Regions from separate parts of the Homo sapiens genome. Here all the other regions are reported to be linked to region 3. The links are microRNA targets in miRTarBase. Many come from high-throughput screens and were not tested one by one. Region 3 holds a microRNA gene; each other region holds the end of a gene's coding sequence. Distances are between the middles of the regions.

Region 1 (7,118 bases), not on the chromosome of region 3:
AAAATATACCAGGACGTCAGAAAGGATGGGGTCAGGCCTAGTTGGCACCCCACTGAAGACAGGGTGAAGGAGCGCACAGGGCTCAGGGTTCTATTCTAGTTCCAGTTCTGCCACTAAGAACCTCTCCAGGCCTCAGCTACCTCCTTTGCAGAATGGGAGTAAACATTCCTTACCTCTCAGGTCACTGTCCAAGCCTTTGTTCACTTATGAAACATTTAATGAAGCATCTGCTTTCAAAAGTCATCCTGCTGAGGGTTGTGAGGACACAAAGACATCTCAGCTGTGTCTCTCGGGATCAAGGGATCCGCTTCATCCTAGCAGGGAGACTGAGCTGTAAATTGCTCACTACCCTCAGATGCAGATCCCAGGGGACACTGAGGAGGGAGCATAAGGCACAGGAGGCAAGTGGAGGGACAGCAGGTAGTGGGACTCCCCCTCCAAGGGTGAATGTCTTTGAGAAGTGGCAGGAACTGTGACAAGTCAGGTCATAAGATTATCTTTCTGAGGGCCATCGCCCCGCCCCTCTTGCCTGGCCCCCTGCCTGCCTCCCAGCTGGGGACTGGATCGCCCTGGGCTGAGCCCCCTACTCTGGGCTCAGCCCCCTCAGGGCCAGGCCAGCCTCCCCACATACCACCTTCTCTTGCATTAAAGCCTTTAAAGTGGACCATAGGTCCATCAAGGATAGTTCACATCTCTGTGCATTTGCACTGTGTAGCTCCTCTCTCCAAACACCTTTTCTCCAACTCGTCCACCTGGCAAAGTCAACTCCAGCCTTCCTGTGGGAGAGTGGAGAGGAGAGTGCGAAATCCCCCAACTAGGAAGGAAACAGAAATGAAGGGGTGCCCCCTGCCCCCATCAGCAGTGGCACAGCCTGTAAGAATGTGAAATATACATTTGGTCTTCATCCCCATTTCCTGGCATACAACTCCTAAAATCCTTGGAATCTCCAAAGTGATAAGTGTCTTTTTGTATGCTGATGATTGCCTGATGGCCGGCAGCCCCTAGGCAGCTTCAGGATGGGGCTGGTCACCAGAAAGACCAGGGCAGGATTAGAGGGTTGGGACTTTCAGCCCCACCCTATGACCTCAGGGGAGGGGAGGGAGCTGAAAGTTAAATTGATGACCAATGGTTAATCAATCATGCTTACATAATGAATTCTCCATAAAAGGCCCCAAAGCAGAGGTTCTAAGAGCTTCTGGGTAGCTGAGCAAGTGGATATTAGTGGAGGAAGGCTTTCCCACAGAGGGAAGCTCCACACCCCTTCCCCCACGTATCCTTTTCTAATAAAGTGATAAATGTGTTTCCCTGAGTTCTGTAACTCACTTTAGGAAATTAATCAAACCAAAAGAGGGGGGTCTTGGGAACCCCAACTTGAAGCCAGTCGGTCAGAAGTTCCAGAGGCCCAGACTTGTGACTGTCTGAAGGGGCTGTCAGTTTTGGTGACTGAGTCCTCAACCTGTGGGATCTGAGGCTGCCTCCAGGTAGATAGCTTCAGAATTAAATTAGAGGACACCCAGCTAGTGTCCGCTACAGAATTGCTTGTTTGTTGATGGGAAGAAGTCCCTGCATTTGGTCACAGAAGTCTTCTCTCTGTGTTAATTGTTGTTGCTGTTGAGAGAACAGGAAAAAGCAGTTGGAGTTTTTCCACCCACACCCTGCTATATGAGGGCAGCTTTCTTGGGCAGGTAGCAAGTCCTGGTCGCCTAAGGGTAAGCTCTCTACCTTCCTTATTTCTTTGTTCATTCCCTTGCTGTCTGCCTGCCCCTTTCCATGTGCTGGGTGTGTGTGTGTGTGTGTGTGTGTGTGTGTGTGTGTGTGTGTGTGTGTGTGTGTATTTTTGCTTTGTTTTGTTTTGAGCTGGAGTCTCACTCTGTTACCCAGCCTGAGTTTCAGTGACATGATATCTTGGCTCACTGCAACCTCTGCCCCCTGGGCTCAAGTGATCCTCCCACTTCAGCCTCCTGGGACCACAGACACGCACCACCATGCCTGGTTAATTTTTTGTATTTTTGGTAGAGATGGGTTTCACCTTGTTGCCCAGGCTGGTCTCAAACTCCTGATTTCAAGTGATTCACCCACCTCAGCCTCCCAAAGTGCCGGGATTACAGGTGCGAGCCACCGTATATGGCTCTCCCTGTGCTTCTTTGCCTCAAATCCAGAAGTTATCTGAGGACACAGTCTTTCCTGGCCTTTGCTTCACAGGTAAAGTTCCTTGAGAGGATGATGCTGGGGGGAAGGAGAGGCAGAGAGAAGGAGGGTTCCATAGACTGGGGAGGGGCAAGTGGTCAGAGGGTCCTCTGGGAGCACCACAGGGAGGTGGCAGGGGCCCAGAGGGCCTGGCATGAGGTACTGGAGAGTCTCAGAAAGCCTCCCACCCCATCCCAGGGCCCAGGCTGAGTTACTGCCTATGGATGGTGATCAGGGCGGGCCCTGAAGATGAGAGCGGCTCCTATAAGCCCCACTCTCATTTGACCCTGGGGATTGAGGAGCCTCCTGTCTGACTGAGATAGGGTTTCCCTACACCCCTCGGGATACAGGCTCAAAGTTAAGTTAAATTAGATGTCAAGAAAATAGAGAGCCGTGAGGTTTCTTGCACACCTCATAAAATAATCCACTATTGTGATCTGGCATGCGGGTCAGGAATGTCTGGAGCTCACCCACCATGTGGAACTCACTTGTCTTCCTCTGGGGGCCTTCCAGAGAGCATCTTCACCATGAGAAGGGATTGCTAAGGAGAGGACTTTCCGGTGCCCAGGTAGTCTCACGAGAAAGACATTTTATATAGCAGGACAGATGCATATGAGACTGGGAAAAGCTGTGATCAGCCCCTGCGGAAGGGGAAGGGGCTGGGTGAGTGGGATGCCTCAGCCATGTGTGGAGGATGGAGTCAGAGAGAGGAGTCCCAGGTGAGGATGCAGAAGATAACTGCATCACCGGACCCTCAGACATCCCCAACAACCCGGCCTTCGGGGGTGATTAGAGAGTCATCCTGGACAGAATCACTAGGCCCTCTTGCAACTTGATGAAACATTTGGCCTCTTGCCAGTAGCCACAGGACTTGCATGGGAGACCAAGGTCACCCAGCCCCATACCCGCCTTTAGGTCTGAACTGAATCGGGGGAGGAGGTAGCAGAGTGCAGAGCTCCTGCCCCTGGCAGCTGTGCTCAGTGTCTGGTGGCGGCTGCAAAGGTCTTCCTGGCCTGACTGCTCCCAGCTCTACTCCTGCCAGTGGCTCTAGCCTTTCTGATTCCTATTTGTTTCCAAGCCTAGTTTTCTGGGCTTCATATCAGTTCTTTGAGATAGCCTGTTGTTATCTTCCTTTCCTGCTTCAATTATCCTGAGTCAGTTTCTCCTCTTTCCATCCAAGACCACCGAAGGTTGCAGAGCTGTTAGAGAATATGAGATAGTGCTATCTGGGCTGAACTGGGTGGTCCCCAGACCGTGTGTTCAGTAGAAGGAAAGAGTGAAAGCAGCAAAGTGCAACCAGATTGTAACTGCCCTGAGGGCAGGGCCTCAGTGTGACCTGCTCACAGCTGGACCTGGGAGAAGGGATGTGTTGCATGGGGAAATTGGGAACATCTGACATATAAATGGCACCACATTTAAAGACCCCCATGGTTGCCCACTTGTTGTGGGGTAGGGGAAGGAGGTGTCACTCTGGTGGGCTTGTTTTCTGCTCCTAAGAGTGTCTTCTGTTTGGAACAGAGAAAAGAAATTGTGTCACAGAAAAACAATTGACTCAGCCGGGCGCAGTTGGGAGGCCAAGGTGGGCAGATAACAAGGTCAGGAGATCGAGACCATCCTGGCCAACATGGTGAAACCCTGTCTCTACTAAAAATACAAAAATTAGCTAGACTTGGTGGCATGTGCCTGTAATCCCAGCTCTTTGGGAGGCTGAGGCAGGAGAATCGCTTGAACCAGGGAGGCAGAGGTTGCAGTGAGCTGAGATCGTGCCACTGCACTCCAGCACTCCATCCTGGCAACAGAGCGAGACTCTGTCTCAAAAAAAAAAAAAAAAAATTGACTTCTCCAGGTCAGGGAGGGTGGCACCACCATGCCCAGCTAATTTTTGTAGACATGGGGTTTCACCATGTTGGCCAGGCTGGTCTTGAACCCCTGACCTCAAGCCTCCAGAGTTCCTCCTGGGACTACACCACTGTGCCCGGCAAATTTTTGTTTTTTGGTAGAGACAAGGGCTTCATCATGTTGCCCAGGCTGGTCTCGAACTCCTGGGCTCAAGCAATCCACCCGCCTTGGCCTCCCAATATGCTGGGATTACAAGTGTGAGCCACCTTATCAGGCCATCTTTTTTTTTTTTTTTTTTTTTTTGAGAGAGAGTCTCTCTCTGTCACCCAGGCTGGAGTGCAGTGGTGCAATCTCAGCTCACTGCAAGCTCCGCCTCCCGGGTTCACTCCATTCTCAGCTTCCAGAGTAGCTGGGACTACGGGCGCCCACCACCATGCCCAGCTAATTTTTTTGTATTTGTAGTAGAGACGGGGTTTCACTGTGTTAGCCAGGATGGTCTCCATCTCCTGACCTCGTGATCCGCCCGCCTTGGCCTCCCAAAGTGCTGGGGATTACAGGCGTGAGCCACTGCGCCCGGCCCCAGCCACCTTTTTTATTAATCTGACACCTGTAGCTGCCAATGCATGCCTCCATCATAACCCATATTTACCACCCAGAATCGATACCTTTTCACTCACAAGCAGAGAATCTTAGTTTTAGCTAGCCTATGAGGACCCCTGGGCAATTTCCATCAGGCTTTTTGAAAAACTGAAGTTAGTTTGTTGATGATCAGGTTCAAGCTGGGGAGACCATCAAGGCTCAAACTGAGAAATTTCAACCCAGGCTCCTAGCAAATGCAGCAACATATAGCAGGCCTGTTTGTTTCCCACCACGTGAATTCTCTAGTATGTCTGACTATTGGGTGATGGTAACTCACCTTCACCAAATGACAACGTCATTTCTGTTTTGTTTTTTTTTTGAGACAGAGTTTCACTCTTGTTGCCTAGGCTGCAGTGCAATGACGCAATCTCAGCTCACTGCAACCTCCACTTCCCCACCTCCCGGGTTCAAGTGATTCTCCTGCCTCAGCCTCCTGAGTAGCTGGGATTACAGGCATGCACCACCATGCCTGGCTAATTTTGTATTTTTACTAGAGATGGGGTTTCTCCATGTTAGTCAGGCTGGTCTCGAACTCCCGATCTCAGGTGATCCACCCGCCTCGGCCTCCCAAAGTTCTGCGATTACAGGCGTGAGCCATCATGCCCGGTGACAATGTCATTTTATTGCTAGTCACCAACATCAGATAACTCAGCTTTTCAAACGACCAGTGATACTAAGACCACCTCACAGAAGGGTGTGATCTCAGCCACTGTGGCCTAAACAAACACGTGTGTGCACATGCACAAGTGAGAGGGGGAGAGAGAGGAGGCAGGAGGCACAGTTTTTACACAATTCTCTAGTTTATTTGTCCGAAATAAATACAACCTGAGAACATCCATTTCAATGTCCCCAAACACTATTTATCCCCTGAAAAAGCAGCTTAAAATATGGGTGCACATTTTGCAGCTTATGTTCTTTGGTTAGGCTCTGAAGGGTGTTTGTTCTGGGCTGGGCTAGGCTGGGCCTAGCTGTAGAGACACACCTAAGTTCCGTTCTCTGTTTGGAGGCTGCACCCAGCCTGAGTCCCCACCAGTCCCCTCCAAGAGCCCTGATGCTGCTTCCGGAGCACCTGTCTTCATTGCCTCTCCCTTCTGCAGCCTGAAAGGAGGGATGTTCAGGACTCTGCAGCTCTGTGTCCAGCCCTTGCAGAGAGCTTTGTCCTCTGACATCAGCTACCACACAGGCTCATTCTCAACTGGCACAGAAAGGGTTACTTCTGACCCTACAGCAGCTTACCCAGGGCAAAGTGAGAGAAACTGAAGCACAGCTGGTATATGGGTTTAAAGTACTCTCCCTTTAACCCTGCCAGGAGGCTGAGAGTCCCTAAAAAATACAGAAGGGGACACTGCCTGCCTACTCCAGTTATTCCCTGGGGCCCTGGGCCACTAGGGAGCAGGAGGACGGGGAGGCCACAGGCCACCCTTTGTCTTCTCTTTGTGGGTGAGGCTCAGAGGATTGGGTCCATGTTCTCCTGGTCTGAGGCTGCCTCATCATCATCTGGGGACTCCTGGATCAGAGCCAGAGAAGCCCAGTCATGGGTTTGTGCTGTTCCCCAGGACCATAACCTGGGGGCCAGCATCTCTTTCCTTTTGCCCTCACCCCTAAAGGAGCCAGCAGAGGGCTTTTCTGCCCCCACCCCAGGTCCCACTGGGCCGGCGCTCCCTCTGTCCTAGCTCCCACCCTGCCCGTGGCCACAGCCCACCACTGGATGACTCCCTCTTACCAGACTGAGGCTCCTGCCCCGCCGCAGGGTGGCATAGAAGTGCAGCACACGGGGGTCACAGCGAACCGCCATGGGGTCAAAGTCCAGCACACGTAGGCCCTGCAGGCTGCGGGCCCGAGAAAGGGCCACATAGGCCTGGCCACTGGCAAACACACGGCCCAGAGAAATCTCCACACAATCCAGGGTCATGCCCTGGGGGATGCAGGGACAGAGATGGAGTCAGCTCAGCCTTAAGTCCCTTGCCCCGAAAGGCCTGACCCTTTACCAGCCCTGCTACTGCCCCTGGATCTCCTCGTCCAGTCCAGAGAGTCTCTAGACAGAGGGAGAGCATGACAGCAGGTGGCTGTCTGAGTAGGAGGGGGACCGGGAGACAGATCCAGGTAAGAGTTGAGGGATGGAGTGAAAGGAAAGCACTCAGGCTCTGGGTCAGACAGGCGTGGAGCTGAATCCAGGCTGCCACTCACTAACTGTGTGACATGGGACACATGAGCCCTGGTTTCTTTCTGTGCAAAATAGGATTATTCATTATATCTATACTTTATACTTGATACAGTGGTTGTATACAATTTATACAATTTTACGTATCTAGTGGTGGCTTAGAAAATGGTGGGGCAGGAGATGGCAGAGGGGAAGTGAATGTATCCAGGAAAGGGAGAGGAGGTGGACTTGGAAATTCACTAAAGAAAAGTTTATTCTGGGCTGGGTGTGGTGGCTCACGCCTATAATCTCG
Region 2 (7,109 bases), not on the chromosome of region 3:
GGCCAACCTTTAAAGTTTTTATAGAGATGGGGTCTCCCCAGGTTGCCCAGGCTGAGATGCTCTCTTTCAAAAAATAACTTATTGTAGAAAATTTCAAACACACACAAAAATAGAGAGAAGTGCACAATTCAGAGACCTCCATGTACCCATTTCCTGCTTCAAAAATTACCTACTGATGGCCCGGCCAGGTGCGGTGGCTCACGTCTGTAATCCCAGCACTTTGGGAGGCCAAGGCAGGCAGATCACAAGGTCAGGAGATCGGGACCATCCTGGCTAATGCGGTGAAACCCCACCTCTACTATAAATACAAAAAATTAGCCGAGTGTGGTGGCAGGCACCTGTAGTCCCAGCTACTTGGGAGGCTGAGGCAGGAGAATGGCGTGAACCCAGGAGGCGGAGCTTGCAGTGAGCCAAGATTGCGCCACTGCACTCCAGCCTGGGTGACAGAGAGACTCCGTCTCAAAAAAAAAAAAAATAAATAAAAATAATTACCTACTCATGGGGCTTGTTTCATCTACATCTCCATCTTCTCCTCCCACTGGGATGATTTTGAGGCAAATCCCAGATATCATATACATAAAGATTTCAGCACACATTGCCAAAAGATTTGGAATAAAAAAAAAAAAAGTTCTGGGCCAGGCTTAGTGGCTCACGTCTGTAATCCCAGGCCAAGGCGGGAGGATTGCTTGAGCCCAGGAGTTCAAGATGAGCCTGGCCAACACAAAGAGACCCTATCTCTACAAATAAAAAAAATTAGTTGGTTGTGGTGGTGCACGCCTGTGGTCCCAGCTACTTGGGAGGCTTAGGTGGGGGAATTGCTGGAAACCAGGCAGTAGAGGCTGCAGTGAGCTGTGATTGCACAACTGCACTCCAGTCTCCGTGACAGAGCAACACCACATTTTAAAATTATATATATAAATATATATATATATATGTATATATATATATATATATATATATGTATATATATATATATATATATATGTATATATATATATATATATGTTCAGCATTCCTATTTCCCTGGTTTTTACAAATTTTGCAATTTTTTTTTCTTTTTTATAGTTTGTTCAAATCAGACTCACAGATCCATGCTTTACATTTGCTGGTATTTCTCTTGTCTCTTTTAGTCTAGAGGTTTCCTCCTCTGTTTTTTTTCCCCTTGCAAGTTATTTGTTAAATAAACTGAGCCATGTGTCTTTTTTTTTTTGAGATGGGTTTTTGCTCTTGTTGCCCAGGCTGGAGTACAGTGGTGTGATCTCGGCTCACTGCAACCTCCACTTCCCTGGTTCAAGCAATTCTCCTGCCTCAGCCTCCCGAGTAGCTGAGATTACAGGCGCCCGCCACCATGCCTGGCTAATTTTATTTTTATTTTTTTGTATTTTTAATAGAGACGGGGTTTCACCATGTTGATCAGGCTGGTCTTGAACTCCTGACCTCAGGTGATCCACCCACCTCAGCCTCCCAAAGTGCTGGGATTACAGGCCTGAGCCACCGTGCCCAGCCCCATGTGTCTTATAGAGTCTCACAGTTTGGCTTTTGCTGAATGCATACCCATAGTGTCCTAACGTGTTTCTCTGCCCCTTGTATTTCTTGTAAACTGGTAAGTAGACTTAGACCTACATTGTCCAGTGTGGTAGCCAGTAGCCACATGTGGCTACTGAGCACTTGGCAATGTGGCCAGTTCAAGCTGAAAAGTGCTGCAAATGTAAAATACACATTGGAGTTTCTAAAGTCTTGGTATAAAAAACAAAAGTGTCTCGTTAATGATTTCTGTATTGATTGCATGTCAAAATGGTAATACTTCGGATATACGGAGTTAAACAACATATGTTATAAAACTTACTTTTGGCCGGGCACTGTGGCTCATGGCCTATAATCCCAGCACTTTGGAAGGCTTAATTTTTTTGACACAACCCCACTGGCTTCTTGTATATATCTATACTCCCTTCCAATTCTTCCCTGCCCCAAACTGGAATCAACCATTTCTCAAATAAAGCTCAGTTGTTTTTAATGAGGAAAGGTATTTAGAAACCATAGGCTGGGAGCTATGGTGCTCATTTCTATCAGTCATTGTTTCCAGGCTTTTTGAGAGGACAGAGCTAGGAAACAAACTTTCCTAAGATAAAATATTAATACATCATGAGTTCATAGTGATACTTACAATTCATGTTCAGGGCTGGATAATTTATCTAACCTTGCCAATTCTATATTTTCATCTCCTTTCTCTCATGTTGAAGTCCCAGTTCTCAATACCAACATTTCCTTTTGTTTTATCTCACGACACAAACAGGACAGACTCAGAATAACAATACTGACACTACCAAAGATAAGATTACTGAAAACAACTATAAAAATGTTTTCAGGCCAGGTGTGGTGGCTCACTCCTGTAATCCCAGCACTTTGGGAGGCCAAGGTGGGTGGATCGCTTCAGCTCAGGAGAACAGCCTGGCCAACACAGCAAGTCTCCCATCTCTCCAAAAAAACAAAATAATTACCCCAGAATGGTGGTGCTTGTCTGTAGTCCCAGCTATTCAGGAGGGTGAGGCAGGAGGATTGCTTGAGCCTGGGGAGTTGAGGCGGTGGTGAGCCATGATTGTACCACTGCACTCCAGCTTGGGCAAGAGCGAGACGAGACCCTGTCTCAAAAAAATAAATAGGCCAGGCATGGTAGCTCACGCCTGTAATCCTGGCACTTTGGGAGGCTGAGGCTGGGTGGATCACCTGAGACCAGGAGTTCAGGACTAGCCTGGCCAACATGGTAAAACCCTGTCTCTACTAAAAACATAAAAATTAGCTGGGCATGGTGGCGGGTGCCTATAATTCCAGCTACTTGGGAGGCTGAGGCAGGAGAATTGCCTGAACCCAGGAGGCAGAGGTTGCAGTGGGCAGAGGTTGCAGTGAGCAGAGGTTGTACCACTGCACTCCAAGTCTGGGCAACAGAGCAAGACTGTCTCAAAAAATAATAATAATAAATAATAAAATAAAATAATAATAATTGGAAGACCACTCTAAAGCAAGTTAGGGAACTATTCCTCAATTCTTTTTCCAGTTGCATAGTATTCCACTGTGTGGGTGTACCATTGTTAACTCGACCAGTGCCCAACTGATGGAGATTTGGGTGTTTTGCTATTACATCAATTAACGTAAATGGCAGGTAGGGTAGGGCTGGTATGGTGGCTTGGTTCCAGGAGATTCTCAAAGACCCATGCTCCTTCAAACTTGTCCAGCAGTGCTCGACTTCGATACTTCATGGTCCAAGGTGGTTGTGACAGCTATAGCTAGAGCAGCCACATTCTAGCCAGGAAGAGGGAGGACAGGGCAAAGGAAAGCATGTCCTGATCCTAAGGGACACCTTCAGAATTGGAATGAACCACTTCTGCTGTCTACCCGTGGTGAGCTCCACTGCACTCATGTTGACCTTCATGGAAACTCTTCTATGTTGCTGGTGGGTTCCTGGACACCCAAATGAGGGCCTATAAAGGTCTGCTCTGTACCTCTGGTGAGCTCTTCTAAACCCATGGTGTTTCTATACGGCCAATACGATCTCATCTATGCCTGTGGTGTCTTCTACACCCACTCCCTTCCCCCCAGGAGGAGTTCTACTGGAATGGGCACTCTACCTGCAGTGGGATCTCACTTACACCTGTGTTAACATCTTTGCCTGTGGAGAGCTCTTCAACGCCCGAGGTGACCTTAGATCATGATTGCTCCAAACCTGTGGTGAGCACTTGAACACCCATGCTGAGTTCCTCTCAACACACAATAAGCTCCCCTACCTTCTGGTGACGCGTCCCTCTCCCTGTGGAGTGTGATCTGGCCCATACCTGTGGCCCACTCTATGTTCATGGTGAGCTCTATTACCCATGGGGAGTTCCTGAGCAGGGGTGGGGCATTGCTCTACATCCAAACCTTTCTCAGCCATGGGGATCTCATCTATACCCCCAGTCAGTTCTACGTCCATGTTTCCAACCACCCTGACAGTTCTTGCACTAACTGTTCTGACTACTAGCTCCTCCAACTGCATGAACCACAGCCTTAAATGTCTCCTGCACCAAGCTGCTTCTTCTGCACACCCTAACCTTGTGGCTCTCACCTGTTTTCCTAGCTTAATTAACAGAATGACCTTCATCCAAGATAAAAATCTCAGTTGGCCTTGGGCTCCCCCTTTGCCTCCAACCCCAATACAAAGAGCCGGATGCCCTTAAGTTTTTATTATTTTTTAAATCTGGGTGTGTAGGATCTCTCGTAGCTTTGATGGTAGTTCAGCTTCACCAGTCCTCTTCTGCTTAAATCATTTCTACAGGTCTGTTTTACTGGTCTTGTCGTCTGTTTTTTTCCCTTCAACACTCCCCCTAGCTATTTGAGGGGACTTCCTGTAAAACAAAAACTAAGTAAACTGTTAATAGTGGTTAACATGGGTGGGGGAGGGGAGGGGATAATAGGAAACGTGTCTATTTCTGACATGATTGGGTTTTTTAAATAAGGTATACATTTTCTAATATCAGAAAAATTAGTAAATAAGATGGTAGGCTGCCTTTTGTCTTCAAGATACACTCCAAACTTCATTCGTAGCCAACCTTCCCCCAAAAAGGGCTCTTGCATTCCTCACATGGAATTTCTTCATTCCCAACAATGCCTCACTTTTCCTTTTTTTTCTTCCACAGTGTTTGCTGGCCTGACAAATACAGTGTCCCCACAGCCTCTTTCCTCTGCTTTCGCAGTCCTAGTGTTCCATGCAGGATCAGAAAGCACTGAGGGCATTCGGTGCACAAATGGATTTGACACAAGGACCCAGATGAATAAGGTCTTTGGAAGGGCTGGGGGAACAGGAGTCAGGGACAACTCTGGATCCACAGGGTTCACGAACAATCTGCTGAGGCTGTCATCCAAGAATTAGAAAGCTGCCACTGCCACAACCACTACTGTATCTCATCACCCACCAAGCTGAAAACCAGACACTGGAATGCTGGTCAGTCATTCCAACTGGCTGGCATTCTCTTCAAATTTTCCTATCCGCAGCCACTATAGTAGGAAGGTGCCCCTACCTCATGCTGCCCTCCAAACAGAATATGCACTCAGAAAGCTAGCTGCAAGGGAGTCAAGTAGTTTTCAGCTTTCTAGCCTCTATAGTGAAGGACAGGCACAAAAGCAAGTGAGATGGAAATCAAGGGCCAACTGATAGTGCCCAGTGCAGATACTGCTGGGAAAAGTCAAGAACAGAGGAAAGGCTGGCTCTACAGGCCTTGACTCTCAGGCCATGCAACAGAAGGGCTGCAGAAGTGACATAACAAATGCCTAGCTTCAGAAAAAACACTCCTAGAGAGTTGGCCATGACGTGGGACTGAAATAGGTCAAGGCCAAAGGCAGTGCAAAAGCCTCCATAAGCATCAAAGGAGACAGGAAAGAGAAGGTTCTAAGAGACAGGAAATATGTCCAAGAATTGGGCTTTCAGAATAGGACTCCAAATTATATTCTGAGTATAACTCCTCCAAAATCCTCCAGTCTGCTTTGGTTTCCAGAGACTATAAATTGCTCTAAAGTTATCTATAGGGAATACATCACCAGCACCATTTAAGAAGAATCAGGGACAACAATAATGCTTTAGGAATACATGGGACACAAGGTACTTCAATTTTCTCCTTTCCTCAACAGTTTTATTGCCTTTTAAGAAAATTTTTGTAAAATATAAATACAAAGGCAGAGAATTTACTTACAAAGTTAAAACACAGATTTCAAACATAAACACACGATTCAGAAAATTTTAGTTTTATGTACATTTCCAAGCAACCTCAACATATTATGTTAGTTTTCAATATTTTACAGGGTACAGAAAAAAATAGCTCAAAGTCTTCTTTAAATAAGAGCATAAAATGTTTAAACATATAAACAATCCGGTTTGATGCGTGAAAACTAATTTCACAGCTTTTAAATTAGGATATAAAAGTTTCATACAATTAGTTGTTGTGTGTGGATATGGTTTGAATTTATATTACACACTACTGGATTACATCCAATAGCATTTACCTGGCCCGAGCAGGTACTCTGTAAACAAAACAAAGTTATATCACCAAGTGCCTTCCCCGAATTCGCTCCCTCAAACCAACCACACAGTTCTGACCACTCTACAGTCATGGCCTGTCATCAGAGCTTTGTATGAAATTAAGTCAAAGTGTGGAGCTCCTTTTACTCATTTTTTTTTCTCCTTAAAAAAGAAAAGAAACAAATGTTCCAAGTAAAAACAAACGTATCCCAAAGCATGTGTGCATTGAAAAGTAAAGAAACATTATAACAACTTCATAAAAACTGACTTAAAAGTTTAAAAGGAAAAAAACATGTTTCTAAGTCCTTCTGACTGGAGTAATTTCTCTTATATAAAGAAGAGATATTTTCATATGTAATAGTGTCCTTTCTTTACAGAAATAGTTGTATTATGACACATATGCACAAGGATTAACACTATAACACACTGTACATGGTGGGTCCAGCTTGCTCACCAGTAGTTGTCTGAGGCCAGATCACTGGGGTGGAGCCACTCTACAGAGGAGCCCAGCAGAGTCTGAATTTCGTTCGTGAATTCCACCAGATCTAACAGCTCCTTACTTTCAGGGTTGAAGGCTTCCAGGTCTTTGGAGCAAGAGAACAAGAGACTTGCAGAAACCTGCCGATAAAATTCTGCCTCTGCAATGGTGACAATTTCCACGTTTGGAAAATTGCAGCGAAATATGCGGGAGGACATTTTCAATTTCTTAAGGACATCCGAAAGCAGTAGCCAGTTTCGTGGCCTACAAAACAGAAAGGAAAATGCTTTGAGTTTCCAGTAAAATGAAAAGTGCGCCCAACTATTAATATTAACTACCAACCCAAGTGGACCAGCCTCTATGTCCTTTCATTCTGCTCCCACCCCTCATTTCTCACCATACCTACTCTCTGATCACCATTTTTTTTTTTTTTTTTTTTTTTTTTGGAGACGGAATCTCGCTCTGTCGCCCAGGCTGGAGTGCAGTGGCGCGATCTCAGCTCACTGCAAGTTCCACCTCCCAGGTTCACGCCATTCTCCCGCCTCAGCCTCCCGAGTAGCTGGGACTACAGGGGCCCGCCACCATGCC
Region 3 (7,118 bases):
TTGACCTTTTTGGAGACTATTAGTAAACATTTTTGCTATACAGTTAATCTTTTGCTAGTTGACAAATTAAATCAAATGGTAGCAGTTTTCAACCTTATTTTGGGAATGGAGGAAGGGAGCTTTCTTGAGAGGAAGTAACTGTTAGCCATTTGTCGATAGATATATATATATAGAGAGAGAGAGAGATTTATTTTAGAGACAGGCTCTTGCTCTGTCGCCCAGGTTGGAGTGCACTGCCATGCTCATAGCTCACTGCAACCTTGAACTCTTGGGCTCAAGTGATCCTCCCACCTCAGCCTACCAAAATGCTGGGATTACAGGTTTGAACCACATACTTGGGCTTATTTTGAGAAAGTGTTTTCTGTGTTGTAAACTATATTATGTAAAATTAGGTATATCGCAATCTTTTTTTGGCAGTCTACGATAGTAATTTATTTTTTAAGCATTTTAAAAAATGGTGGAAATCAAGTTTGAATTGATTTTAACTATAGTTTAGTGAAGTATAATAGTTCTATGAAAGCTTTTATTACCAGTTTTGATCTAGGGTTGGTGTAAATTAGAAATTGGTATGAAATCTTTTGTAACATTGTTAAAAAATGCAACAATGCTCCTGATATTATCACTGCTCCCGATATTATTTATTAAGTTCTTCGCGGCTCCATTTTTACTTTGCCTTATTTGCTCTGAAATCTTTTAGTTCTTTAGTTGTTTTTTTGAGGGGAGGGTAAGGGAGGTATGTGAATGGCTACAAACATCCAAAAGAAACAAATGCATTTGGAAAATTGACTGTTCTAGAATACTTGTTCTGCTTTCTCTCACAAGACTTGATTTATGAATTAATTGCAGGAATTGTTAAAAAAGGTGAAATTTATTCCTGGATCAGCACTGAATGGCATGGTTGAAATGATGGACAGGCGGCCATATTGGTGTATATCAAGGCAAAGAGTTTGGGGTGTTCCAATTCCTGTGTTTCATCATAAGACCAAGGATGAATACTTGATCAACAGGTAGAATGCTTTCTAAAATTTTTTAGTGTTTTAAAGTGAAATATTTTTTCTTCAAAAATTGAAAAATAATGTGGATGATTAAGAACCGTTTATATATGTTAAATAAAATATGCTAAAATAGTCTTTTGGGGGACTAAAATATAAGTTCAAAACAATTCTATCATACAGTTAAAATATTAACTAGATTTTCTTAAATATTGATACTTAGAAGTAAAGTCTCTGACTTTTTTTCTATGAGAATTTATTGGGCTGTATTAAGGTATCATGGATCCAAAGATGGACAGTGTTTAGCAGGGGAGCCTGAAATGTATTTTTTCTAAAGGAATGAAGAGAATCACTCTCACATTCTGAGTCTGCTTTCCTTTTCAGTGGAAATGGGATTATGTAATTGTGTAGATACTTAAAATTTAAGAAATTGTAGTTAAATGCACATGATTACACTGATGATTATATTCCCAGTTTTTCCCTTTTTTTTTTTTTGAGTTGGAAAGGTAATAGATGGACATAGTGAACAATTCATAGTAGAAAAGCTTGTACACTGAAAAGTAGGCTTTTTCCTACTCCAGGTATCCAGAACCTTTTTTTGAGGCAGTCATTGTTTACAGCTGTTTCTGAATCTTTCCAGAAAAAATGAATTCTTCTGTCAGCACATACATATGTTTATACAAAAGAGAGTATCTCTATCTTCTGCTCTGTGCCTAGATTTTTTTCACTTTATGTGTTATGATTTATTCCAAATCACTACACATAGATCAGCCTCATTCTTAAGCTTTATTAAAGCATACTTTACATACTATAAAATTCATGGCCAGGTGCGGTGGCTCACGCCTGTAATCCCAGCCCTTTGGGAGGCCGAGGCTGGTGTATCATGAGGTCAGGAGTTCAAGACCAGCCTGGCCAAGATGGTGAAACTCCATCTCTACCGAAAATACAAAAATTAGCCAGGCATGGTGGCGCGGGCCTGTAATCTCAGCTACTCCGAAGGCTCAGGCAGAGAACTGCTTGAACCTGGGAGGCAGAGGTTGCAGTGAGCCAAGATCGTGCCACTGGACTCCAGCCTGGGTGACAGAGTGAGACTCTATCTCAAAAAAATTAAAAAAGAAAAATTCATTTATTATAAGTGATTTATAGTAAATTTGTTAAGTTTTACAGCCACTATCATAATTGTGTCTTAGAATAATTCTTTTATCCCGAACAGCTCCCTTTTGTGCTTTTCGAAAGAGAAGTTGCTTGGAAATCTGTGAGCTTTGGAGAATGGCAACTGAATTTGAACCCAGGCTTTGCCATTCACTGTGTGTGAGACTGAGGAATTTACTTAGCCTCTGGCTCCTCTATAAAATAGGAAAAGCAATGGTTGCAGGTAGACTGTTATGAATACTAAATAATAAATGCAAACTACTTGGTGTAAAGCACAGTATTCCATAGATGATGAGCTATTCATGTATTCACTTAAGAAACATTGTTATGTGGGCACAGTGGCTCATGCCTGTAATCCCAGCACTTTGGGAGGCCAAGGCGGCAGGATTGCTTGAAGCCAGCTGTTCAAGATTACAGTGAGACCCCATCTCTACAGAAAAATTTAAAAATTAGCTGGTGTGGTAGTGTGGGCCTGTAGTCCCAGCGACTTGGGAGGCTAAGGCGAGAGGATCGCTCAAGTCCAGGAGTTTGAGGTTATAGTGAGCTATGATCATGCCAATGCACTCCAGCCTGGATGACAGAGCAAGACACTGTCTCTTCAGAACGAAACAAAACAGAACACATTGTCAAGCACTTAGTACGTGTCAGTGCTAGGAACTGCTAGTTGCTACAGTGAACAAGACTGACATGGCCCCTGTTTTTAATGAGATAATAGTCTAGCTAGTTTATCTTCTAGTAATATTAGGGAGGCTTTGAGTGTTGTTGCTGTTTTTCACAGATGTGGAGAGGGGAATGTTAATTCTTCCTTTTAGGAACACATTCCAGATTTTCATTTTCTTTGAGCAATTTTTTTTAATTTGGTGAATGGAATTTTTTCTAAATTATGCTATTAAGAAGTTTAAACTTTTAAGTAGACTTGAGGAGTAAGAGTATGTTTTAGGAAAAGAAAGTAGAGGCTAGAGACTGGAAAGTCATTGGAAAGCTATTTCAATATTATTATAAGTTGGATCTGAGGTAAGACTTTAGGAATAATCTAAATATTGTTGCTGTGGTGTTCTTACAGAGCTTGGTCAGATGTAAACTACTAATATCTTAATACTTACATTAAGAATTAATGTAAATTCTGTCCAGTTCAGATTATTTTATTTTATTTTTGATACAGTCTCACTCTGTCACCCAGGCTGGAGTGCAGTGATGTGATCTTGGCTCACTACAACCTCCACCTCCCAGGTTCAAGTGATTCTCCCTCCTCAGCCTCCTGAGTAGCTGGGACTACAGGCACGCGCCACTGACTTGGCTAATTCTTGTATTTTTAGTAGAGATGGGCTCTTGCCACGTTGACGAGGCTGGTCTCGAACTCCTGGCCACAAAGGATCCATCCACCTCTGCCTCCCAGAGTGCTGAGATTACAGGCATGAGCTACCATGCCCAGCCTCAGACTTAGTTTAAAAGAAAAAGAATTAAAGTGATTATACCTGAGACGAGTTTCCACAAACATTTGTTTAAAATTTCACACTGGAAAGTTTTTTTTTTTTTTGGAAAGTTTTATAAGCCATGTCATTGTCTCCTCTTCTTTTTTTTTTTTTTTTTTTTTTTTGAGATGGAGTTTCACTCTTGTTTCCTAGGCTGGAGTGTAGTGGCACGATCTCAGCTCACTGCAATCTCCGCCTCCCAGGTTCAAGTGATTCTCCTGCCTCAGCCTCCTGAGTAGTTGGGATTAGAGGCATGTGCCACCACGCCCGGCTAATTTTATATATATATATTTTTTAGTAGAGACGGGGTTTCTCCATGTTGGTCAGGCTGGTCTCAAACTCCCGACCTCAAGTGATCCGCCCGCCTCAGCCTCCCAAAGTGCTGGGATTACAGGCGTGAGCCACTGTGCCCGGCTACTCTTCTTTTCACTATTTAGAGAGCAAGATGTCTAGGGAATTTCACTGAAGTGATTGAGGTGGGTGGGGATTCCTTGGTGGAATAGCCCTCTGGACTCTGAGGTGGATCATATGTATGTATTAGTAAATATAGCAAACTGGTTTAATTGATACATCCTGATAATTAAATGGTACATAGGTTGACTGGTCAGTAAGTTAGGTTAAATAAATATGAGCTTTGTCAGAAAAACACAAGTTTTCATTAGGTATATTTATGTTTTATTTACTCAATACATTTACATGGTAGTGTTACAGATTATCTTCTGTGTACCTGCCATTGCGTTGGTTGCGTGGTGTTAGTCGATTTCTGATATTGAAGTAGCACAGTCATACAGAATATTGGCCTAAAGAAATGACAGACAAACTCAGCTATATTGTCTGTCAATTCATAGGTCATTTTCCTGTATACCATTTCTGAATGATGACTTTAATCCTCTTCCATTATTGGATCTTTTTGGTGTTACAAAACTTGAATTTAAGAAAATTGATATTAATTCTTAATCATTTGTTAATTTTATAAAACAGGCTGAAAATCTTTTTTTCTGCTGGAATCAAATGAGAGTCCAAGTGACCACAATTTTCTGTCTTTCTTTATTATACCTTTATATTGTAGCAAGTTGGTAACCATCAAAAGTAACAGCATCTCCACTGGAAATTGGTACACAGTCCACATGGAGTTGCTGTTACACTTGATAACACCATTAAACATATAAGGAGATTCCTTTTGCTCATCATGGGAGCTGTACGATATCTCTAAGTATACTTGTTTCACAGAAGAAAGTCTCGATTTATTCATGTTCTAAATAAGTTTAGGGACTGGTAGATTTGAAACGCTGATGTTTTATTTTGATTTGAATTAATAGTGTCATTTGCATTTTAGATCATATTTGTATTTTATCAAGAAATAATTCCATTTCTGACTTTACTGTCATTGGTCATTTTTTGAATCTGTGAGATAATGCCATTAGAATTTGGGTTGAAATCTGTTACTAGTCAATAAAAACAGAAGAAATAATTTTTAGCATAAAAAAGATAAAATGTAGAAACACTGGCTACCTGGGAAGGAAAAGAAGTTGGTTAAATTTCTTTCATCATTTCAAACAGTTATAATCACTTTCATGCTATTAATGCTATAGTTAACATAGTGAAACTTAGCCCCTAACTTCTGGAAATTATGAGAAATTTAGTAAAAATAGCCAAGGAATTTCCAATATAATTTGAGTGTTAACTTTAGCTACCTCAAATTTTTTCTCAGTTAACAATAATAAACCTTTTGTTCAAAAAATTTATGTTCATTAAATAAAGAAAAATTTCTTCAAAATGGTTTTCTGTCAGCTTTAAAACATAAATCTAGGATTAAACTAAAAATAGAATTTCCCCTTCCAAATTTCACATTGTTCTAGAATTAAATTTAGTAAACAAATGTGAAACATTTAGCCTCTTACCTCATTCTTCTTCCAGTAAGTTACAGAAGAAAAGTTGTCTTAATAATCTTCAATATTTTTGCTTATAAAGGCAAAACACAGAAGACAGTGGGATGACAGCAGTCGTTTCTTTGTTGCTTTAGTAATCTTAATGCTGCTTAATGTCCATAACACGCTAAATAAGCCTCATTCCGGTTGATATCGAAGTTCAGAATGATTGGCTGATGTCATAGTTGCTCATGCTACCTAGTGGATTTTCACTGATTGAAACCTAAGAAGGGACACGTAATGCATGTGTTGAGATAAGGCCTTTGAGTAAAGTACAAGGTTTTATGATGGATTTATTGCTTTATGAAGTAAAGCATTAAGATGGAAGCATATAGATTACATACTGGTAAGTGGTTTCACCCACTTTTATCAGCAGTCGTTTATACTGATCTTTGGGTTATAGGTTAACTATGAGTTTGTGTTAAGTATACAATGTTAAAGAAATGAAGGTAGAATTCTTAAATTTCAGACAAATTAGGAATTTTCCTGCATTTTTTTCTGAAGAATATTAAATATCACAAGGAAATAGTTAGAAAATTGTTTAAAAATTTTTTTAGGAAACAGAAAATTATTTAAGAAATCTTTTAAGTATTATCTTGGTTTCATTATAAAAAAATTCCACTTCTAAGTATTTACCCAAAGGAAATAGGACTAATACCTCTTGTGTGAGGATATGTATATAAGATGTCCAATACAGTTGTTTATAAAGGAACATAATGATATACAAAAGAAGATGTAATTTAATTAGTTATAGAAGAATGAATATGTACCTGTTAAAAATGTCAGCTTAGCTCTTAATGGTTGCCTAGTTCCTTGTGTATGAAAATCAAATGAACATAACTTATCCAGTGTTTGGATTTTGTTAGATGTTTGTCACATCTCTATAATGAGTGTCTTTTGAGCACTTGTTCACAGTTAACTTTATATACTTTTTTCAAATTATCTTTTTAGATTTTGTTTGAACATTAAGTTTATCTTTGTTTTTATCATCATTATACCTAGCTCAAGTTTGTGGGTTATATGTCTGTTTATTTTTATTGCAATTTTTGTTTTCAAAGCTCTCTGTCACACTTTTTTTTTTTTTTTTGAGTTGGAGTCTTGCTCTTGTTCCCCAGGCTGGAGTGCAATGGTGGGATCTTGGCTAACTGCAACCTCTGCCTCCCAGCTTCAAGCGATTCTCCTTCTTCAGCCTCCCAAGTAGCTGGGATTACAGGCTTGCGCCACTATGCCTGGCTGATTTTTGTATATTTAGTAGAGATGGGGTTTCTTCATGTAGGTCAGGCTGGTCTCGAACTCCCCACCTCAGGTGATCCGCCCGCCTCGGCCTCCCAGAGTGCTGGGATTATAGGCGTGAACCACCGCGCCCGGCCTTTTTTTTTTTTGAGATGGAGTCTCACTCTGTTGCCAGGCTGGAGTGCAGTGGTGCAATCTCGGCTCACTGCATCTTCTGCCTCCTGGGTTCAAGTGATCCTCCTGCCTCAGCACCCCCCAAGTAGCTGAGACTATAGTCACGCACCACCATACCTGGGTAATTTTTGTATTTTTGTAGAGACCGGGTTTTGCCATGTTGCCCA
Region 4 (7,115 bases), 110 Mb from region 3:
CCTTCCCAAAGAGGATAGGACCTCCCAGGATGCTTCCCAGCCTCTCCTCAGTTTCCCATCTGCTGTGCCTCTGGGAGGAGAGGGACTCCTGGGGGGCCTGCCCCTCATACGCCATCACCAAAAGGAAAGGACAAAGCCACACGCAGCCAGGGCTTCACACCCTTCAGGCTGCACCCGGGCAGGCCTCAGAACGGTGAGGGGCCAGGGCAAAGGGTGTGCCTCGTCCTGCCCGCACTGCCTCTCCCAGGAACTGGAAAAGCCCTGTCCGGTGAGGGGGCAGAAGGACTCAGCGCCCCTGGACCCCCAAATGCTGCATGAACACATTTTCAGGGGAGCCTGTGCCCCCAGGCGGGGGTCGGGCAGCCCCAGCCCCTCTCCTTTTCCTGGACTCTGGCCGTGCGCGGCAGCCCAGGTGTTTGCTCAGTTGCTGACCCAAAAGTGCTTCATTTTTCGTGCCCGCCCCGCGCCCCGGGCAGGCCAGTCATGTGTTAAGTTGCGCTTCTTTGCTGTGATGTGGGTGGGGGAGGAAGAGTAAACACAGTGCTGGCTCGGCTGCCCTGAGGGTGCTCAATCAAGCACAGGTTTCAAGTCTGGGTTCTGGTGTCCACTCACCCACCCCACCCCCCAAAATCAGACAAATGCTACTTTGTCTAACCTGCTGTGGCCTCTGAGACATGTTCTATTTTTAACCCCTTCTTGGAATTGGCTCTCTTCTTCAAAGGACCAGGTCCTGTTCCTCTTTCTCCCCGACTCCACCCCAGCTCCCTGTGAAGAGAGAGTTAATATATTTGTTTTATTTATTTGCTTTTTGTGTTGGGATGGGTTCGTGTCCAGTCCCGGGGGTCTGATATGGCCATCACAGGCTGGGTGTTCCCAGCAGCCCTGGCTTGGGGGCTTGACGCCCTTCCCCTTGCCCCAGGCCATCATCTCCCCACCTCTCCTCCCCTCTCCTCAGTTTTGCCGACTGCTTTTCATCTGAGTCACCATTTACTCCAAGCATGTATTCCAGACTTGTCACTGACTTTCCTTCTGGAGCAGGTGGCTAGAAAAAGAGGCTGTGGGCAGGAAAGAAAGGCTCCTGTTTCTCATTTGTGAGGCCAGCCTCTGGCTTTTCTGCCGTGGATTCTCCCCCGTCTTCTCCCCTCAGCAATTCCTGCAAAGGGTTAAAAATTTAACTGGTTTTTACTACTGATGACTTGATTTAAAAAAAATACAAAGATGCTGGATGCTAACTTGGTACTAACCATCAGATTGTACAGTTTGGTTGTTGCTGTAAATAGGGTAGCGTTTTGTTGTTGTTGTTTTTTCATGCCCCATACTACTGAATAAACTAGTTCTGTGCGGGTACAGCACTGTCACTGTCCGCTTCTGTGTGGTACCCTGTCCTCCCACAGGGAGGAAGGTCTGGTCTCTGGAAAACAGAAGAGCCGGCAGGGCCCAGAAGGCCCCACCGGGAGGTCGGGAGACTCAGACACCACTGGCTGATAAGCCTGTCCCTCTGCCCATGTCCATGACACTGCTCCCAAATAGCTGGATCAGCACAGAGCCCATTTCCTGGCATTTCCAAGGAAGACATGGTGGGCGGGCAGGAAGGTGTCCTTTTCACCAGGACGGAAAGGACTTCTACGGTGGGAGAGGCTGCACGGGGCAGGCAGCCTTCCAGCCCAGCCCCTCAGGGCTGAGTCCTAGACAGGGATGAGTTTTCTGGGGCAGAATTCAAGAAGCAGGGAGGGCTGCATTGAGAGGCTGGTTGGAATTGAATGGTGGTCAGTGACTCAGTGCCTCCTAACTATACTGCTCAGGGTTGTTTTTTGTTTTTTTTTTCCCATTGGAAAATGAAGCAGCTACTCATACTGAAGCCAAGTGTGTGCTTTGCAACATTACTTCTCAGCCTAAGTTTTGTTTTTGTGTATATATATGATATATATTTAAAAGTATATATGCTTTTTAAATTTAATAGAGGCGGGGTCTCACTATGTTGATCAGGCTGGTCTTGAATTCCTAGGCTCAAGTGATCCTCCCGCCTTGGCCTCCCAAACTGGGGTCACAGATATGAGCTACCGCATCCGGCCTAGTTCCAAGTTTTGTGTTTGTCGAAGTTCCATTCAATAAACTAGAAAGGCAGCTGGGTGCGGTGGCTCATGCCTGTAATCCCAGCACTTTGGGAGGCCGAGGTGGACAGATCACCTGAGATCAGGAGTTTGAGACTAGCCTGGGCAACATGGTGAAACTCTGTCTCTACTAAAAATACAAAAAAATTAGCTGGGTGCGGTGGTACATGCCTGTAATCGCAGCTACTCCAGGGGCTGAGACAGGAGAATCACTTGAACCTGGGAGGTGGAGATTGCAGTGAGCTGAGATCGTGCCACTGCACTCCAGCCTGGGTGACAGAGCGAGGCTCCATCTCAAAACAAACAAAAAAACTAGAAAGGGAGTTAACCTGGGGACAATATAGGGTGATGATTAAGAACACAAACCCTAGCTGGGCAGTGGTTCACGCCTGTAATCCCAATACTTTGGGAGGCCAAGGCATGTGGATCACTTGAGGCCAGGAGTTAAGAGACCAGCCTGGCCAACATGGTGAAACCCATATCTACAAAAAATACAAAAAAGCCAGCTGTGGTGGTGCATGCCTGTAGTCCCAGCTACTAGGGAGGCTGAGGTGGGAGGATGGCTCAAACCCAGGAAGTAGAGGCTGCAGTGAGCCAAGATCGCACCACTGCACTCCAGCCTGGGTAATAGAGCCAGACCTTGTCTCAAAAAAAAAAAAAAAAGGACACAAACCCTAGAACCAGACTGAATGACTTAATCTTTCTGAGCCTTAAGTTTCTCTGCCCACAAAATGAGGATGATGATAAAAGCATCCACCTAATTGAGCTTTTATGAGGATTAAGTGAGTTAACACATGTAGAGTGCTTGGAAGAGTTCATAGTACATAGTAAGAGGCCAGTAAACACTGGCTTTCTGTGTTGTTGCTACTGGGTGCAATGGAAGAGTGCACAGAGAGAAAAAGTAGAAAGCCAGGCCCAAAGGGAAGGAGACAGGCAGGTGGCTGAACAAGAAGGGCAGCCATGGCAGGAGGGCCTCCTCCCTGACTGGCACTGCTTACTGAAAGTGCTGCTGAAGCAGGTTTAGAGTGGGAGGAGGTGGGGTGGGGACAAAACTCAAGGCTGACCAAGAGGGCGAACAGGATGTGCCATGCCCTCTCCAGCCGCCAGGTGGCAACAACACATGGGTCTGCAGCTTGTTTTGCCTCTAAGGACCCACCCTGGACATGGCTCCACACAAACATGTCACCTTCTGGCCTCACCCAGGTGTGTACCTAAGCCTGCTGACCTTCCAGTGCTTCTATTGGCCCAGGAGCCACCAACAGGCCCTGCTCACTAGACACCAGTGCAGGGCGCAGCTGGGAAGCACACCTGAGGTTTCTTGCCTTACGCCAAATTTCTCCAGAGCTGAATACTCCGTGTCTGTCTGCATACCCCTTCCCTCCCACCGATTCCTGGAATCCCAGAGGCTGCGGGAGTTGCTGCAGAATTCAGGGAAAGGTGCATATCTAGGCATTGTCACTGAAGTAGGTGAATGTGCCAGGTGAACCTTGGAATCAGCCACAAAAAGGGGAAAGCAGTGATGGGCCTCTGGCTCCAGGGACAGGGCAAGGACACTTTGGTGCCTAAGTCAGGCATTTATGGCCAAATAGGCATGGGTGGGGGCACCAGCTGGCAGTCCCACTTCTCTTTGCCCACTTACCTGCTGCTTTTCTCAAGTCATGGCCTGACCTTCAGGGAGGGAAGTTTCCTCAAAACTCAGAAGGAATTGAATTGGTTCTGATTACTAGAGTTAAAGGCTGCAAAAAAAGGGAGGCCCTACACCAAATCTGTTAAACGTGTCTTTGTTATTCCTTCAACAAACACCATCTTGCACTCGAATATCTTCTGAATAAATAAACTAAATGCTCTGCTACACACAGGTCACAACACTAGGGTACTGCAGAGGTTTCCGGATCCTGACGCTCACCCCCAAGTCTAACAGGGGAGATGAGGAGAGCACAGACAACCCCAGTGATGTTAGTTGGAGCCTGACTAGGTGTTCCAGCAGCTCTGGCTGAGGTGATCAGGGAAGATGAACACCACCAAAGGGCCTTCACGTCTCACAGGGAGAGCAAACAAGAAGCTGGTGCGTTTCTAGGAGGCTCCATTATTTTGCCAGTAAAGGACATTCAAGTTTAGGATATAAATAAGAATCTACCTAGATCCTAGCTTAATAGCCTCACATACTGTGAATTAAGCTACACTTAACTTTCATCTGGACCTTCCAATGATACCTGAGACCTGGGGAAAGGCAGCCTGTCCTTGTCTAATGCCAACAAGGGGAGCAGTCACAGCCTGATAAGCTGGAATCTCAAGGCCCTAGGGCCTATTCAGGCCCCTGCCTAGGAGGCCCATCCTGGCTCCCTGCCTGGAATTAGAGATTTACTCCAAATTTGTTAGAAATTGGAGCAGGGGGCTGGGTGCGGTGGCTCACACCTGTAATCCCAGCACTTTGGGAGGCCGAGGCGGGCGGATCACGTGAGGTTGAGAGTTCAAGACCAACCTGACCAACATGGAGAAACCCCATCTCTAGTAAAAATACAAAATGAGCCAGATGTGGTGGTGCATGCCTGTAATCCCAGCTACTCGGGGCGGCTGAGGCAGGAGAATCCCTTGAACCCGGGAGACAGAGATTGCAGTGAGCTGAGATCGCACCATTGTGCTCCAGCCTGGGCACCAAGAACAAAACTCCGTCTCAAAAAAAAAAAAAAAAAAAAAAAGAGAAATTGGAGCAGGGGCTGGGTGCGGTGGCTCACACCTGTAATCCCAGCACTTTGGGAGGCTGAGGCGGGTGGATCACCTGAGGTTAGGAGTTTGAGACCAGCCTGGCCAACATGGTGAAACCCCGTCTCTACTAGAAATACAAAAAATTAGCCGGACGTGGGTGGCAGGCGCCTGTAATCTCAGCTACTCGGGAGGCTGAGAAAGGAGAATTGCTTGAACCCAGAAGGTGGAAGTTGCAGTGAGCCCAGATCGCGCCATTAAACTCCAGCCTGGGTGACAGAGCAAGATTCTGTCTAAAAAAAGAGAAAGAAATAGGAGCAGGATCGACTTCCAGATATACAGAGAATATAAAAATACATTCACTTTATTTTAGAAAAATGAAGACTCATAGAGTAAGCTTATCACAAACTGGCCTATTAGGAGTCACAGAATTCACAGGAAACAATTTCTGAAGACCAGGTGCCTGCTGCCACCTCTCCAAGCAGGCCAGAGTCCAGTAGAGAATGCGATTCAGGAAGATGGCTCCTCAGAGGGCAGGGAGGTTAGCTACGGAGGCCGCTCACGTGGAAATGTCCAGTGAACCAATGCCAAGGAAGAAGATAAAATTCTCTGGGGCTGACCACAACAGTGGGGGTGGATAAAGACAAACCACTTGCCTGTACTTCTCATCTTCTATTTGTTCATTTCACTGCTGGAAGGTGACCTCTTTTCCCCTAATCTTCTTTCAACCCAGAGAGTTTAAGTCTTCTCCAGCTCAATCCTAATCCACCCCATTTCCCATGGTCTCTACTCCTGGGAGACCAGCCCTGGTGGCATCTCTTCCTCCTGTCCCTGGGCCAGAATCTGCTGGAGTCAGGGTCTGCTGGGTAGAGGCGAGTCCAGGTACTGACTGTAGTGGTTTGCTACTGAAGTCTTGCTTGCTGTCCTGATCTCTTTACCTAAAGAAATAGAAGGAATAACTGCTTTAAAATGCCCTTCTTCCTCAAGCCCATTTGTCACCCAGCAGAATTCAAGCTCCTCAGGGTGGGAAGAAATGGGATCCCCCTTCCCCTGCCCCAGGCTCCCCTCCTCTCTCCATCTTTCCATACAAAATTCAGGGCTGATGTGCATAACAGCTTGGAATCCCAGATGATGGCGGGGTAGGGAGACAGGATGGGCAAGGGAGGACCAGACTGACCTGGTAGGTCCTGGGACTGCCACTTTCCTGGGGGGCTGCAGATTGCTGCGAGTGGCACCCATGACAGGAAGATTTAGTCGCTGGGAAACAGGAACTTCATGGGGGTTAACAAAAGAAATGAGTTAGCAGCAAGTTTAACTGACCTCGAAAAGAAATACTGGATGAAGGGAGCGAGTGTGGGATTAGTACTCTCCCCCTGACCATGAGGTATTTGAAAACTAAGACTCAGACTCTGTCCAGCCCCATATCCTCTCTGTAACTCAGTCTCCCCATCTTCCAATTGAATTGCAATAAGGATGGCAAAAGTGGTCACTGTTGACAGCTCTGGGAGGGTGAGGACACGCTGGGCAAGGGCGGGCATTCTTCCTCCTGACCTCTTACCCTTGTGTCCACTTTCCCGCACTCTGTGTCCTGCAGTGCTTGGTCTTGGAAGCCCTTTTCGAGTTGACAGAGAATCCGGAGGTAGGGCACCTCTGCCAGGTGGCACACTCCGGCTGGTGAGTGGCATTCGGCTGGCAGGCCTGGGGATGGCCGAGGGAATGGGCAGTTGACTGGAAGATTTAGCAGCTGCTCCCTGCGGCCGGGGCAGGCGTTGAGAGTTGCTGGTAGAAGGCTGTGGGGCCAGGACGGATCTGATGGGGGTGGGTGGGCCTGGTGGAGAGGGGTGGAGAAATTTCAGGGTCAATCCCACAAACTCCCCACTCCCACTCACCCGCAACTTGGCTGCTCTGGTCTCCTCACTGGCTGCTGCTCTCCCACTGGGCCCGGCTCTCCCCCGGACTGGGGGAGTCGATCGGGTAAGAGGAGAAGATGCTGGGCTTTTGGATGCAGGGAACAGATTGCAAGTGGGTGACTCCTGAAACACAAAGAGAGAGAGAAAAAAGACTAGAGTGGAAAAAATATCTGTTCTGTGGCTTAAGGAATTAAGAAATAGAGGTGGAGAGTTGTCTACATCCCAGTAAGGAAGGGTAGAAGTTAGCTGCTAACATCACCACATCACCATCACCATCACTATTGCCAATACCATTTATTGAGTTTATCATAGACATATACTCAGACACTGTGGTAAGAGTTTTGGTTCTCTTTTTTCATGGTTCTCATTTAATTCCAACAATTCTAGATGT

The links. Region 3 holds the annotated microRNA hsa-miR-215-5p (AUGACCUAUGAAUUGACAGAC, at 4,449-4,469, opposite strand). A microRNA usually pairs through its seed, bases 2 to 8, with sites in the 3' UTR of a target mRNA and lowers its output. Matches are read on the target gene's strand: a 7mer-m8 pairs with bases 2 to 8, a 7mer-A1 pairs with bases 2 to 7 and ends in A, and an 8mer does both.
Region 1: miRTarBase lists PIF1 as a target of hsa-miR-215-5p. The part of its 3' UTR that is shown has no 7-base or 8-base seed match.
Region 2: the mRNA of BCOR is a reported target of hsa-miR-215-5p. The part of its 3' UTR that is shown has no 7-base or 8-base seed match.
Region 4: the mRNA of PSRC1 is a reported target of hsa-miR-215-5p. The part of its 3' UTR that is shown has no 7-base or 8-base seed match.

Annotation. Positions count from the first base shown.
Region 1 is chr15:64,810,186-64,817,303 of GRCh38, forward strand. PIF1 (PIF1 5'-to-3' DNA helicase) reads right to left here. Exons shown (of 13, transcript NM_001286496.2): 12 at 6,389-6,580; 13 at 5,447-6,172. The coding sequence ends at 6,113. Among named protein-coding and RNA genes, the nearest start is that of PIF1, 12 kb to the right of the region's middle. RefSeq lists enhancers at 573-1,080, 1,081-1,586.
Region 2 is chrX:40,045,616-40,052,724 of GRCh38, forward strand. BCOR (BCL6 corepressor) reads right to left here. Exons shown (of 15, transcript NM_001123385.2): 15 at 5,636-6,785. The coding sequence ends at 6,494. Among named protein-coding and RNA genes, the nearest start is that of LINC03053, 40 kb to the left of the region's middle.
Region 3 is chr1:220,113,468-220,120,585 of GRCh38, forward strand. MIR215 (microRNA 215) reads right to left here and starts at 4,495; the gene lies at 4,386-4,495. IARS2 (isoleucyl-tRNA synthetase 2, mitochondrial) reads left to right here. Exons shown (of 23, transcript NM_018060.4): 12 at 847-1,007. MIR194-1 (microRNA 194-1) reads right to left here and starts at 4,774; the gene lies at 4,690-4,774. LOC124904515 (a long non-coding RNA gene) reads right to left here and starts at 5,646. Exons shown (of 2, transcript XR_007066883.1): 1 at 5,518-5,646; 2 at 4,275-4,416. RefSeq lists an enhancer at 1,206-1,375.
Region 4 is chr1:109,274,405-109,281,519 of GRCh38, forward strand. PSRC1 (proline and serine rich coiled-coil 1) reads right to left here. Exons shown (of 8, transcript NM_001032291.3): 5 at 6,733-6,847; 6 at 6,373-6,642; 7 at 5,992-6,085; 8 at 5,152-5,752. The coding sequence ends at 5,749. It overlaps CELSR2 (cadherin EGF LAG seven-pass G-type receptor 2), which reads left to right. Exons shown (of 34, transcript NM_001408.3): 34 at 1-1,347. Among named protein-coding and RNA genes, the nearest start is that of PSRC1, 5.2 kb to the right of the region's middle. RefSeq lists enhancers at 1-1,879, 3,021-3,770, 3,063-3,357, 3,442-3,501 and cis regulatory regions at 560-579, 564.